Regions from separate parts of the Homo sapiens genome. Here region 2 is linked to region 1. Evidence: fine-mapped expression QTL. Tissue or cell type: visceral fat. Region 1 holds a variant in brackets; the other region holds the start of a gene. All regions are shown on one strand. Distances are from middle to middle.

What was found. PIP is the estimated chance that this variant, and not a neighbour inherited with it, causes the effect.
Region 2: ST3GAL6-AS1 starts here. The variant in region 1 is fine-mapped to the expression of ST3GAL6-AS1 in visceral fat (GTEx, PIP 0.90).

The regions. Positions count from the first base shown.
Region 1 is chr3:98,684,342-98,692,452 of GRCh38, forward strand. No RefSeq gene overlaps it. Among named protein-coding and RNA genes, the nearest start is that of ST3GAL6-AS1, 44 kb to the right of the region's middle. The variant T/C (reference allele first, on the strand shown) is at 3,609.
Region 2 is chr3:98,728,338-98,736,442 of GRCh38, forward strand. ST3GAL6-AS1 (ST3GAL6 antisense RNA 1) reads right to left here and starts at 4,314. Exons shown (of 5, transcript NR_046683.1): 1 at 4,089-4,314. It also overlaps a transcript of ST3GAL6 not described here. RefSeq lists enhancers at 3,780-4,528, 4,529-5,276.

The DNA of each region.
Region 1 (8,111 bases):
AGGAGCATGCAGATTCATAAAGGAAGTTCTTAGAGCCCTACAAAGAGACTTAGACTCCACACAATAATACTGGGAGACTTTCACCCCACTGTCAGTATTAGACAGATCAATGAGACAAAAAATTAACAAGGATATTCAGGACTTGAACTCAGCTCTGGACCAAGCAGACCTAATAGACATCTACAGAACTCTCCACCCCAAATCAACAGAATATACATTCTTCTCAGCACCACATCACACTTATTGTAAAACTGGCCATATAATTGAAAGTAAAACACTCCTCAGCAAATGCAAAAGAATAGAAATCATAACAAACAGTCTTTCAGATCACAGTCCAATCAAATTAGAACTCAGGATTAAGAAACTCACACAAAACCGTACAAGTACATGGAAATTAAACAACCTGTCCCTCAATGACTGCTGAGTAAATAACAAAATTAAAGCAGAAATAAATAAGTTCTTTGAAACCAATGAGAACAAAGACACAATATACCAGAATCTCTGAGACACAGCTAAAGTAGGGTTTAGAGGAAAATTTATAACACTAAATGTCCACAGGAGAAAGCAGGAAAGATTTAAAATGGAAACCCTAACATCACAATTAAAATAACTAGAGAAGCAAGAGCAAACAAATTCAAAAGCTAGCAGAAGACAAGAAATAACTGAGGTCAGAGCAGAACTGAAGGAGATAAGAGACACGAAAAACCCTTCAAAAAATCAATGAATCCAGAAGCTGGTTTTTTGAAAAGATCAACAAAATAGACCACTAGCCAGACTAATAAAGAAGAAAAGAGTGAAGAGTCAAATAGGCACAATAAAAAAATGATAAAGGGGACATCACCACTGATCCCACAGATATACAAACTACCATCGAGAATACTATAAACACCTCTACACAAATAAACTAGAAAATTTAGAAGAAATGTATAAATTCCTGGACACGTACACCCTCCCAAGACTAAACCAAGAAGTCGAATCCCTGAATAGACCAGTAACAAGTTCTGAAATTGAGGCAGTAAATAATAGCCTATCAACCAAAAAAAGCTCAGGACCAGACGGATTCACAGCCGAATTCTACCAGAGGTACAAAGAGGAGCTGGTATAATTCCTTCTGAAAATATTCCAAACAATAGAAAAAGAGGGACTCCTCCCTAACTCATTTTATGAGGCCAGCATCTTCCTGATACCAAAACCTGGCAAATAAACAACAAAAAAAGAAAATTTCAGGCCAATATCCCTGATGAACATCCATGCGAAAATACTCAATAAAATACTGGCAAACTGAATCCAGCAGCGCATCAAAAAGCTTATCTACCATGATCAAGTCGCCTTCAACCCTGGGATGCAAGGCTGGTTCAACATAGGCAAATCAATAAACGTAATCCATCACATAAACAGAACCAATGACAAAAAATACAGGATTATCTCAATAGATGCAGAAAAGGCCTTTGACAAAATATAACACCCCTTCATGCTAAAAACTCTCAATAAACTAAGTATTGATGGAATGTATCTCAAAATAAGAAGAGCTATTTATGACAAACCCACAGCCAATATCATACTGAATGGGCAAAAACTGGAAGCATTCCCTTTGAAAATGGCACAAGACAATGATGCCCTCTCTCACCACTCCTATTCAACATAGTATTGGAAGTTCTGGCCAGGGCAATCAGGCAAGAGAAAGAAATGAAGGGTATTTAAGTAGGAAAAGAGGAAGTCAAATTATCTCTGTTTGCAGATGACATGATTTTATATTTAGAAAACCCCATCATCTCAAACTAAAATCTCCTTAACCTGATAAGCAACTTCAGCAAAGTTTCAGGATACAAAATCAATGTGGAAAAATCACAAGCAATCCTACACACCAATAACAAACAGAAAGCCAAATCATGAGTGAACTCCCATTCGCAATTGCTACTAAGAGAATAAAATACCTAGTAATACAACTTACAAGGGATGTGAAGGACCTCTTCAAGGAGAACTACAAACCACTGCTCAAGGAAATAAGAGAGGACACAAACAAATGAAAAAACATTCCATGCTCATGGATAGGAAGAATCAATATCATGAAAATGGCCATACTGCCTGAAGTAATTGATAGATTCAATGTGATCTCCATCAAGCTACCATTGACTTTCTTCACAGAATTGGAAAAAACTACTTTAAACTTCATATGGAACCAAAAAAGAGCTGGCATAGCCAAGACAATCCTAAGCAAAAAGAACAAAACTGGAGGCATCACGCTACCTGACTTCAAACTATACTACAAGTTTACAGTAACCAAAACAGCATGGTACTGGTACCAAAACAGATATATAGACCAATGGAACAGAACAGAGGCCTCAGAAATAACATTACACATCTACAACCATCTGATCTTTGACAAACCTGACAAAAACAAGCAATGGGGAAAGGATTCCCTATTTAATAAATGGTGTTGGGGAAACTGGCTAGCCATATGCAGAAAACTGAAACTGGGCACTTTCCACACATCTTATACAAAAATTAACTCAAGATGGATTAAAACTTTAAATGTAAAACCCCAAACCACAAAAACCCTAGAAGAAAACCTAGGAAATGCCATTCAGGACATAGGCATGGGCAATGACTTCACGACTAAAACACCAAAAGCAATGGCAACGAAAGCCAAAATTGACAAATGAGATCTAATTAAACTAAAGAGCTTCTGCACAGCAAAAGAAACTATCATCAGAGTGAACAGGCAACCTACAGAATGGGAGAAAAAATTTTGCAATCTATCCATCTGACAAAGGGCTAATATCAAGAATCTACAAAGAACTTAAACAAATTTACGAGAAAAAAAACAAACAACCCCCATCAAAAAGTGGGCAAAGGATATGAAGAGAAACTTCTCAAAAGAAGACATTTATGTGGCCAACAAACATATGAAAAAAAGCTCATCATCACTGGTCATTAGAGAAATGCAAATCAAAACCATAATGAGGTACCATCTCACACTAGTTAGAATGGCGATCATTAAAAAGTCAGAAAACAACAGACGCTGGAAAGGATGTGGAGAAATAGGAATGCTTTTACACTGTTGGTGGGAGTGTAAATTAGTTCAATCATTGTGCAATACAGTGTGACAATTCCTCAAAGATCTAGAACCAGAAATACCATTTGACCTAGCAATCCTATTACTAGGTATATATCCAAAGGATTATAAATCATTCTACTATAAAGACATATGCACACGTATGTTTACTGCAGCACTATTCACAATAGCAAAGACTTGGAACTAACCCAAATGCCCATCAATGATAGACTGGATGAAGAAAGTGTTGCATATATACACCGTGGAATACTATGCAGCCATAAAATAGGATGAGTTCATGTCCTTTACAGGGACATGGATGAAGCTGGAAATCATCATTCTCAGCAAACTAACACAGGAACAGAAAACCAAACACTACATGTTCTCACTCATAAGTGGGAGTTGAATAATGAGAACACATGGACACAGGGAGGGGAACATCACACAACAGGGCCTGTCAGGTGGTAGGGGTCTAGGGGAGGGATAGCATTCAGAGACATACCTAATGTAGATGACGTGTTCATGGGTGCAGCAAACCACCATGGCATGTGTA[T/C]ACCTATGAAATAAACCTGCACATTCTGCACAAGTATCCCAGAACTTAAAGTATAATATAAATATATATGTGTATGTATATATCTCTGCTATATATATGTACATGTATATATACATATATATCCGCTATATATGTGTATGTATATACACATATATGTCCACTATATATGTATACATACAGATATATACATATAGGTACATATGTAATATATATGTGCACATGTATACATATATGTACATATATACATATATTACATATGTAATATATGTATATATACACATATATACGTATACATGTGTATATGTACATATGTACATATGTAATATATGTATATATACATATGCATATATTATACGTATATGTATAATATAATAATATATTAATATATTAATGAATGAATTAATTAATTCATTAATATAATAATATAATAAATTATACATATACGTATAATATATGTACTATATGTATATATACATATATGTATGGTAATATATGTATATGTACATATGCGTATATACGTGCATATATACATATATGTACATATGTGTATGTGTGTATATATACATATGGGTATATATGTGTGTATATGCATATATGTACCTATGTGTATATATGTGTGTATATGCATACATGTACTATGTGTATATATGTGTGTATATACATACATGTACATATGCGTATATCTGTATATACATATGTGTATATATGTGTATATATACATATACGTACATAAATGTATATATGTCTATATATACATATATGGCAGATATATAATATATATGGAAATATATATAATATATTATATATGGAAATATATATTGCATTATATATGGAAATATATATAATATATTATATATGGAAATATATATTGTATTATATATGGAAATATATATTATATTATATATAGAAATATATATTATATATGGAAATATATATTATATTATATGAGGAAATATATATTATATTATATGTGGAAATATATATTATATTATATATGGAAATATATATTATATTATATATGGAAATATATTATATATTATGTGTATGGAAATATATAATATATTATATAAAATATATATTATATGTAATATATATTATATATGGAAATATATATTATATATTATATATGTGGAAATATATATAACACATAATATATGGAAATATATATATAATAAATATATATGGAAATATATGATACATATTACATATATGGAAATATATGATATATATTATATATATGGAAATATATGATATATATTATATATGGAAATATATATTATAGATGGAAATATATATAATATATATTATATATATGGAAATATATATAATATATATATTGAAATATATATAATATATATATTGAAATATATATAATATATACATGGAAATATATATAATATATGGAAATATATATAATATATATGGAAATATATATAATATATATTGTATATGTGGAAATATATATAATATATATTGTATATATGGAAATATATATATGGGAATATATATAAAATATATTATATATATGGGAATATATATAAAATATATTATATATATGGAAATATATATAATATATATAACGGAGTTTCTTTTTTTTTCCTATAATATGTAGTGGAAAACAAGAAAAATTTAAGAATTAATTTTTAAAAAATTCAGTCTTAAGACTAAATTTTTTCGTCAGGTAGTGTGCACTCAGCTTCAAGTAACAATACACTGCTAAAAGTAGCTTTATAAACAGGAGAAGTGTGGAACCAGGAAGTATGGAGAAAAATATTTCTAATTTTATTAGAGCAGTTCAGCAATTTCATTAGGAGGTGGGACCCTCCTCCCACCCTCCTTGGTACATTGGCTCTGTACCTTCATACTTGCAAGATGGCTCTCCCCTCCAAGATGAGACATATAAATATGACAATATTTGGGCCCCCAAAATCTATCAGATTTTGTAACCTCCATCTATACTTATTGTACCAGAAGCATTTATTCCATAGTAAGTCTTTTGAACTTTTATTTATTTTTATTTTTATTAATTTATGTATTGAGACGGAGTCTTGCTTTGTCGCCAGGCTGGTGTGCAGTGGCACGATCTGGGCTCATTGCAACCTGCGTCTCACAAGATCCAGCGATTCTCCTCCCTCAGCCTCCCGAGTAGCTGGGACTACAGGCGCGTGAGATCATGCCCGGCTAATTTTTTTGTATTTTTAGTAGAGACAGGGTTTCACTGTTTTAGCCGGGATGGTCTCAGTCTCCTGACCTCGTGATCCGCCCACCTCGGCCTCCCAAAGTGCTGGGATTACAGGGTGAGCAACCGCGCCTGGCTATTTATTTTTGAGACAGAGTTTGGCTCTTGTTGCCCATGCTGGAGTGCAGTGGCGTGATCTCGGCTCACTGCAACCTCCACCTTCAAGCGATTCTCCTGCCTCAGCCTTCTGAGTAGCTGAGATTACAGGTGTGTGCCACCATGCCCAGGTATTTTTTTAAATATTTATTTATTTATTTATTTGTGGGCATGAGCCACCACGCCCGGCCTCAACTTTCATTTTAAATGGTGATACATATTCCATACCAAAAAAAAAAAAAAAAAAAAGAAAAAGAAAGAAAGGTCGGGCACAGTGGCTCATGCCAGTAATCCCAGCACTTTGGGAGTCCGAGGCGGGTGGATCACCTGAGGTCAGTAGTCCAAGACCAGCCGGACCAACATGGCGAAACCCCGTCTCTACTAAAAAATACAAAAATTAGCTGTGCATCGTGGCAGGTGCCTGTAATTCCAGCTACTCAGGAGGCTGAGGCATGAGAATCGCTTGAACCCGGGAGGCAGATGTTGCAGTAAGCCAGTATCGTGCCACTGCATTTCAGCCTGGTCTACAGAGTAAGACTCCATTTCAAAAAACCACAACAACAACAACAACAACAACAGGAAAAAAAAAAGAAAAGAAAGAAACAAAGAGAAAAACAAACCACACACCCTATAATTGGACAGGCCCAGTGGCTCATGCCTGTAATCCTAGCATTTTGGTGGTCAAGGCAGGAGGATCACTTGAGTCCGGCAGTTACCAGCTTGAGCAACATAGAGAGACCTGGTCTCTACTAAAAATAAAATTAGGCTAGCATGGTGACTCATGCCTGCAGTCCCAGCTATCTGGGAGGCTGAGGCACAGGAGAATAGTTTGAGCCCAGGAGTTTGAGGTTTCAATGAGCTATGATCACATCATTGCACTCTAGCCTGGGCAACAGGGTGAGACTCTGTCTTAAAAAACCAAAAACTGTAGTTGACTTAACATAATAAACAGCGTTCCTTTCATTTATGGAATACCTGAGTATTAAGAAATATATACTAGAGGTTTTACACAAACACCTCTAATCCTTAAAACAATCTTGCAAGGTAGCTATTATCATTCTGATTTTACAAATGAGAAAACTGAAACTCAGAGAGCTTAAAACTTATCTGATATTTCCGCTAGTTGCAGAACAGGGAATTTGAGCCCATTTCCAAACCAGCAGTCATAATGATATTTATTTAACACTGGGGGCGGGTGGGTTGGGTAGGGAGAAATCAAAGCCCAAAGGAATAGGCAAATTCATAACTAATAAACATAGAATTTGTTGGCCAGGCACGGTGGCTCACGCCTGCAATCCCAGCACTTTGAGAGGTCGAGGCGGGCGGATCACGAGGTCAGGAGATCGAGACCATCCTGGCTAACACGGTGAAACCCGTCTCTACTAAAAATACAAAAAATTAGCTGGGCGTGGTGGCGGACGCCTGTAGTCCCAGCTACTCGGGAGGCTGAGGCAGGAGAATGGAGTGAACCTGGGAGGCGGAACTTGCAGTGAGCCGAGATCGCGCCACTGCACTCCAGCCTGGGCGACAGAGCGAGACTCCGTCTCAAACAAAACAAAACAAAACAAAACAAAAACATAGAATTAGCTAAGCTTGTTATTGAAAAAAAAAAAACACAAAAAAAACCTGAATTCTTATAAGAAGTCAGCAAATGGCTACAAAGCTATGATGGATATTCAGATCTATTTATAACCTACAGTTCATCATTGCACTTTCAGTAGACGGTAAGCAATTATTCAGTTTGCATCAGTAGCTATGTTGAGCTTACTCTGACATCCTGTTTTCCACACCTCTTGATCAGGCTTACTGGCATTTTGTTCTTCATAAGTCTTTGTCAGCACTTCCTACAGTTGTCCAACACTATCTAGCACATACAATTAGTCACATTTGTCAACAGTCCTCAGTAAGGTTAGATTAAGTTCAATTTCTCATGGCACCCATATAAAAAGCTCCTGATTTGACTCTCCTATAGCACAATAAATTTCACTAGCCAATAGAAAATTCTGTGAAATATATGTAAATGCATATATATGTGTGTATATATATTTGATTGTGGTACTTCTTGTGGTAGGTTTGGTCTGTATCCTCAAATAGGTGACAATCAGACATTTTTTTTTTTGTTCTAAAGGCATCAAGAAGGCTATACAGAGGCCGGGTGTGGTGGCTAA
Region 2 (8,105 bases), 44 kb after region 1:
TCCCAAAGTGCTGGGATTACAGGCGTGAGCCACTGCACCTGGCCCTTGTATTTATTGTACGAATTGCTTGTTTATGGCTTGTGTTCTATTTTAAAATAGGGTTTTTTTTTGGTACTGATCCATAGGCATTTTTTTTAACATATTCTGGATATTCTCCCTTTAAAAAAAATACATTGCAATTATTTTCTGTCAGTTGCCCTATTTACGGTTTCCACTGTACAGATGTTCTACATGTTCAGGAGTTTGGGATGAACTTATCGCCAGTCACACCATCCCACCTCCCCTCACCTTCCAGCCTGTGGTAAAAGAGACTGAGCAATGAAGACCCCTGAAACTTTGACAAAACTGGTAGAATATGAGGATGTCATCATTTATGAAGCTGCAAATAAGCTTCCTGGTAGACTTGACTTCCTTTTCTGTACAATCACAATACTGGAAAAATCATCACAATGGATATTTACATATGCAAAAATGTAGCTGAGACTCTAGTCTGAAATAGAGATTTTGGAGAAGTATGACTCTGCTTAATGCAACTAAACTGCTTTTTGCTAATGTGATACATTTTCTACACTGTGGACAGTCATAGCTGTAAGTCAGGATTTATACTGCTTAGGCACTGTGGGTTTTTTTTTTTTTTTTTTTTTTTTTGAGATGGAATCTCGCTTGTAGCCCAGGCTGGAGTGCAGTGACAGGATCTCGGCTCACTGCAGCCTCTGCCTCCCAGGCTCAAGCAATTCTTCTTCCTCAGCCTCCTGAGTAGCTGGGATTACAGGCGTGCGCCACCACACCCAGCTAATTTTTGTATTTTTAGTAGAGCCGGGGTTTCATCGTGTTGGTTAGGCTGGTCTCTAACTCCTGACCTCATGATCCAACCACCTCGGCCTCCCAAAGTGCTGGGATTACAGGCGTGAGCCACCGCGCCCGACCTACTGTGGCTTATTATTTTTGAGATGCACATGTTCTTTAAATAATTGCTTATAGGAGATAAAACTCCAAGACAGCCAGAAGACTGCACTGGCAGGATTTTCTCCTTGAGTTGGAGGAAGGATTGTATGTAAAAACGATTAGCTTGGTCAAGCTCAGTCATGAGCTAGATGGTGTTTAAAATTGAACTCAATGTTCTCTGACCAATGTGTCAAATTAAAAAAAAAAAAAATTGAACTCGACCTTGAAAACTGTTTTTAAAAAGAAACCTTTTGAACATCATGTACTGTAAAAGAAAAAAAAATTTAAAGTTTTAAAAATTATTCTAAGAGGATGTTGTAAGAAAGTGGCCTCATGTCACTTTATAGGTATCTCCAGTCCTGGGGTTCACTTACTATGATCTGATCTGATTGTCTTGCTGAGAGCACACCCTTATGAGTAGGTCTCTCCTACAAGGAGTAGACATTCTTGCCATCAGTCATGGCAGAAAAGGCTGTACTTGGCACAGAACAGGAGAATTTAGAAGGCAGGCCCTACAATGGGGATGAGGAGGAAATACTTTGGTCTATTCTAGACTGCACATTTAGTGCTGAATGGCCTCCCATGGTAATGTGGGGAACCTGGCCTCTACCTGTCACTGGTGCGCAGAGGCGACAGTCTATGAAACAATAGCATTTATTTTAAAGAGACTGCACCACCATAATAAAAAAAACAAACCTAGTAAAACAGGGCCAGCCCTATATGTACACTGCCTGAAAATTATAATTTTAGGGGCCTTTGAAAGACCTTGCATGTCCCAAGAGTCCTCTCCTTCTTTGTGGCTTTTCCCCTCCCAGCTTATTAGAAGAAATCTTCTACCAAAAGGCCAAATTAAATATACATATATTGGGAGGGTATTTTCTCCAAAACAATGACCAAAAACACTAACCCAGAGAGGACTAAAAACTTTTAATTCCATCACCCTACTTAAGCCTTTGTCAGTTTCCACAGGAATATAAAATATTTATATAATAGCAATCATGTGCCCATACAATAATATATCTTGAATTTTTAAAAATTAATGTTACACTGATCAAAAGCCCCTCCCATCACAGAGAGTTACATAGCAGTGATATCTCAGAAAGAACAATGATTTTGGCCTCAGGTGCTTTCCTTTGAGTCACAGCTCCAATGTAGGCAGCACAGCCCTAGACCACCTGACTCTGTTCCTTCCTTTCTACCATGACTGGCTTGCAGGGTGAGTGAGAGGAACAGATACAATGCATGGTGGGTGGCTGACTCATGGTGGGCAATGACTGGTAGTTAATATTTTTAGCGTTATTTTTAAAGTCAACATTTTACTTCCTGAATTGATGGTTTTGGGGGCAAGCACTGTGCCAAGCCTTCTTTACAACAGAGACTGTTTTAATCCTAATCACCCTTCAAGACTAGCTGTATTATCTCACTTTACACCTGACAAAAAATGAAGCCCACTGTGGTAATGCCACTTGCCCAAAGTCACACAGCAGGTCAGCAGAAGAGGTAGCTTTTGAACTAGGTTGGGGTCAACAGTAGTCACTACTGGCCACTACCAAATATGAAATACAAACGTCACCTCAGAACAGCAGATAGCCTCTCTCCTTAGCACACTGCTTTGCAGATTCAAGAAGTCCAGAAGGCCAGAGTGGATGAGGTGAAATACAGTTTTAGTTTTTAAGATCATGAACAAGGGGTCAGTGAAGAACCCAGGAGAAATTAAAAGAGCAAAGTAAACCTCAACACCAATTAGTTCAGATAGACAAATTCCCTAAAACTCTTTCACTATCCTGATGTCTCAAGAGCCACGTTTAAAATTACAAAATCTGTGTGGGTTATGTCAAAGGCAATCTGTAGAAAGGGCAAAGAATATGAATTATCTGAACCCATTGAGTTTTTTGTTTGTTTGTTTGTTTGTTTGTTTGTTTTGAGACAGAGGCTCGCTGTGTCGCCCAAGCTGGAGTGCAGTGGCGCCATCTCAGCTCACTGGGTTCAAGCGATTCTTCTGCCCCAGCTTCCTGAGTAGCTGAGATTACAGGCGCGCACCACCATGCCCGGCTAATTTTTGTATTTTTAGGAGAGACGGGGCTTCACCACGTTGGTCAGGCTGATCTGGAACTCCGGACCTCGTGATCCGCCCGCCTCGGCCTTCGAAAGTGCTGGGATTACAGGTGTGAGCCACGGCGCCCGGCCATTTTTTTTTTAAAGTAAGGTTGGGAAAACAACAAATGATACCTCCTAGGGCTGTTATTACAATTAAGACAAATACCAGAGCACTTTGGCAGGTGGAGGCGAGCGGATCATTTGAGGTCAGGAGTTCGAAACCAGCCTGGCCAACATAATGAAACCTCATCTCTACTAAAAATACAAAAATTAGCTGGGAGTGGTAATCCCAGCCTGTAATCCCAGCTACTCGGGAGGCTGAGGCAGGAGAGTCGCTTGAGCCTGGGAGGCAGAGGTTGCAGTGAGCCAAGATCATGCCCCTGTACCCCAGCCTGGGTGACAAAGCAAGATTCTGTCTCAAAAAAAAAAAAAAAAAAAAGGACAAATACCAGAAAGCCCATCACAGATGAAGGACTTTGTTCCAGTTCGTGACACATTGCCAACTTTGAATTACATCCAAGTCCGTGGGTCTTCTCTCTGGGGTCAATTGATGGCACGTGATTACACTGCTCAGGGCCCAAAGGTTGGAGCTATGACTTGAATGTTTCTAGACAAGGAATTATTTGACAAACACACTTTAAAAAGTATTCAGAGCCATCCAAGTAAGAGGACATTAATAACGTAGGGTTTTGCCTATGGAGAGAAAAGAAAACGCAAACAGCACGTTCCACCTTCGTTCTCCCTAAAGTAATTTATCTCCTTCAAAAGATAAAAAGTACGAACACATTTGCCCTTGAAGGGCAGAGCCCCGGAATTCAGGAGCTCTCTGAACACTCCTCCCCTTCTGATAGGGACCAAACCTTCTGCTGAGCCTTGTGTCACAGTCAGTCCGCGGCGCCACAAGCCTCAGTGTTTACTTCTGCCGCCTGCCAGCCGGGCGGGGAAGGGGAGTACCCGGCCACCCCTCACTTTAGCTCCTGCAGCTTTCCAAACAAACCAGGGCGGGATGGGAGTGTCTTCTTGGCTGTGGAAATCGATCCTCCTACCTTGTCCTGAAGCCACCCGCCGCCTTTCCTCGTCCCTCCCTTCGCGGTGATTTTCCGGTCCCGGCGCCCGGCGAGGGCGCGCGGCTGGTGTCCGCCCCGCCCGAAAGGTAGGGGTTCGGCTGTGCTCCCGCCTGGTCCCCAACGCCTCACCCTCCGGGAGACCCGCAGCCTCCCACCACTTTGCACCTTCCTCCTCGAATTTGGGGGCGGCCACCGTGCAACTGGCGCCAGCCGCGGAGCAGGAGGAGCTTCCCGCGACTCCGGAGGCGCTCGGCGCAGTCGCCCGGGATTGGGGCTGGCGGGAGCCTGAGACTCCGGGCAGGGCTGCTCCCTCCTCTGCTCCCCCGCCAGATCCGCGGGGAAGGAATCGTGCCCGCGCCGCCCCTGGCCCGCGCCACCTTCCTTTGGTTTCTGCCGGCCTCGGGCTTCTGCGGCCCGATGTGGCAGGCGCCGCGAGAGAGGCAGCAGCCGGCTGGAGCAGCGGCCCCTCAGGTCTCGGAGCCCGGTGCGCCTCTGCGGTCGTCGCTCCTGGGCCTCGGCGGGTCACTCTTGCCGGCCGGCTTCGCTGCGGGTTTGCACTGCCCGGGTGAGGGAAATTGGGGGTGCGGGAAGACCGGTCTGGGCCGGGGTCCGGGCGGCCTGGGGTCTGTGCTGCCCCGACCCTCCGGCTTTGCAGCCTCTGAGGCTCAGGGTTGGGGGTGGGGACACGGAGCGCTGTTTGCCCCTCCACATATCCTGCCAGCACCAAGGAGGTGGCGTGCGGAGGCGTAAAGGGACCATGGGCGCTGGGACCCGCGAGCCAGCCGGCGTGCGCCGCAGCCACCGCCGAGAGGGCACCCGGGGATCCTGGAGCCCCAGTGAAGGGCGGGAGGGACGCGCAGCCTCGCGGGTAAGCCCAGGAGCCGTGGGGGCCGAGAGAATCTGCTCTGGGACCCTCTTTTGTCGAATCGCCGGCGAGGTTGTGCAATTGGGAAGCCAAGAGGAGTGTCCAGCTCCTCGTTCACTATTGTTTTCTTGTAAAAGGGTCTGTACGCGAGGAGGGTTGAGGGGTCTGGAAGGTTCTGGTCTCTTACCGTATAAAGTTTTTCGAGAAACCCTTTTTCCCTCCACAATGGAACTAGACCTAACAAAACAAGCTCCGAGGCAGTTTAGGAGAAAGGAGGACGGTGAGTAAATTGCAGTGTTTGGGCTGCTGTTAATTTTCAAGATAAGGGAGAAGCAACTTGTCATTTTGAGGCCGCCGGCTCCGGAGATCCCGGCAATCTCAAGCCTCTTTCTTGTGTGCTGTTATTTTGGCTTAAAAGAAAACCTATAAAAAGCGACGCCCAGAAACCAAAAACAAACCCAAAGCACCTTCTTTTAGGATTTTTCAGTAGCGAGGGTTGGCGGGGACAGTGGGGAGGAGCAGGAGGGGGAGAAGAGGTTGCTGTTGAAAGGTAATGTTTAAAAACAGTGTGTGGGGGTAGGGATGAAAATAACGTGGTGACTGCTAGTGTATCAGAAATCACACCGAGTCTAAAGTCGTAAGTCCCATTTGCCTTACGAGGACCAGCTGGGTGCTGTGAGTAGGTGGATAGTTAAGGAAACTGTAGATCTGCTGAAAGCTCCTCGTGGTCTGTGGTCTCGTGTCCACGCTGACCTTTGAACCTCGTAACTCTTCGGGTCTCCAGCGGCCACCTCTTTTAGGCTAGCCCGAATGTTTGACTTTCCGGTCCTCAATCTTCCTCACCTAGCTGCAGACCATAAAACTGTCTTTTTATTTACAGGGAGATGTTAAATATTTGGGAACATCTGCTCAGGCTGCCAGGTTATTTTCCGTTTGAAAGCATGCCGATTTGACATTTGCAAGTTGGTTTATGTTGCTTCCTTTTTGTTTCACTAAGAACGCTTTTCATACCAAGATCTGCGAAAAACGATGCCCTTAGACTGTTATTTAGTTTATTGTCTCTGAGTAAGGCCAAATTCCACAGAGGGTCTTTGGATAATGGCAACTTTGCTTATAAGAAGATAATTTTTCTAGAAAGTGTTGCATTGGTCTGGTTTCCTAAGCTGTTCTTGTGGTCATGTAGACTGGGAGGGGAGATCTTCATTCCTTGTGATGTCGCTTTCCTTGAATTGTATTTTTACTATAGTTCCACAATGTCTCAGTCCCAGATTGCACCATATGTTGTTTACATGGTGCAGTAAAATGGGACTGCAATTTTGACTACATTTCAGTAGATTTGTTGGAGATAGTTTGTTCTTATGCCCTATATCAATAATAATAATAAAAAACCTTTGAGGCTCAAGAATAGACAGTATTGACAGAATAATACCATTAAGAGACATACCATTTAAAAACATTAGTCTGTCTCCTGTGAAATTGTAAATCGTAGGTGTTCTCATTCAGTGGCAGACGACTGGATTTCACAGCAGTTTTCTTCTGTTGGAGACATTTCTGTGTTCCACATCATGTGGAACCTTATGGGAGAAGACGTGAGTAATGCCATGTTTCCCGCATTTCCCTGATAAGCATCATCTGCTAACCATGCAGACTGCCAGATGGCTTCCATGGAAATTGTGCTTCCATCCAGGAGTGGTGACCAGAGATCTGTTTAGTATGCATTTTAGGTGATGCTTATTGAGAAGGTGAAGGAAGCATGGAACTCCTATTTGGCACCCACTCTGATTTTTGGTGTGTTCTCATATGCTATTTTATTTAATCTTCCTGACAAAACTCCTGCAAGAAAGGAATTTTTAGCCCCATTTTATAGCTTAAAAAACCAAGATTGCCTTAGGTTGAGTTGCAGTGGCTCACATAAAGGTTTGACTCTACCTCTGCCTACACCATCCCAGGAATCCTCTGCAGTATACATTCTGCACAAATTCTTCCATTTCCTGTGCATATCTTTCTCCTTTGCCTGGCATATCCTCCATTTATATATACCTTGGTCTGAATATGCCTTTCTAGTTATCCCCAGGCTGGGCTTTTTGAATAGGTGGTCTGCGTACTTTGCCTTCCTTGTGACAGCTTTAGACTTTCACCAGCCAGGAACCTTCTATCTTCTGCACATCTCTGATGTGTCACTTAGGTGATCAGGGTCTGGCGAAATCTAGGAGTTTATGCTGTCTTCAATGGGCATATTCCAAAAGTTCTTTCCTTTCTGAATACATTTTCACTGAAGCTCCTACTCAAGCTATATGTTACCTGGAAGAGGTTTTCCCAGGGTTACATCCCCACCCTCACAGTTGAAATGAAACATTCTCTCCTGTCTGTCCCAACTGTGATGGATAATAGCACACATCACACATCACAGTTTCCAATTTAACCCTTAGGGGTTAAAATGGATTTTGATTTGGAGTGAGCTTGATGCATGGAATAGAATGTATACATTGGATATTATAGTGTTTTGGTAGGAAATTTTATTTACAATTCCATATCAGGATGTCAGAAACACAATTCCCTCACCATTGTGGGATAGCTGGAGTTCTTTCCCCTGATGGTGACACCTCAGCACTGAATCAGCTGCAGTGTCTCAGACTTGGTCAGGAACTTGACTGTCGTATAATCAGGCTAAGAAGTGCTGAGATTCTGGCAGTGAGGTTATGAAAGTAAAAGATAACAGGATCAGTAAGACCTGGTTTTCTTCCTTGTGCCCATGTTTGTTTTTCTTGGAGAGCTTTTGGTCATCTAGGAGGATTGTCCAGTTTACCTTTTTACTGCCACAAACTTTTGTATCTGACCAGGGGCCTTCCTCTTCCTGCACCATTGAGATAGAGGGAAAGGAAAGCACCTAGCCCTTAGGAGATTTTCTTAAAAACATTGGAAAGCTGAGTGAAAAGTTATCTTCTCCCCCATTCTCTCTTTCCCCTTCTTATATGCTTAGCCTAAGACAAAGTATACAGATAGCATCATTGCATACTTTGCAATGTATTTAGTGCTAGGCTTTGAAAGATGGTTTAAACATTGATTTACTTTTTATTTGGTTGGGAATGGAAAGATCTTTAGGACATGATGAGAACAAGGCCCCCAGAAGA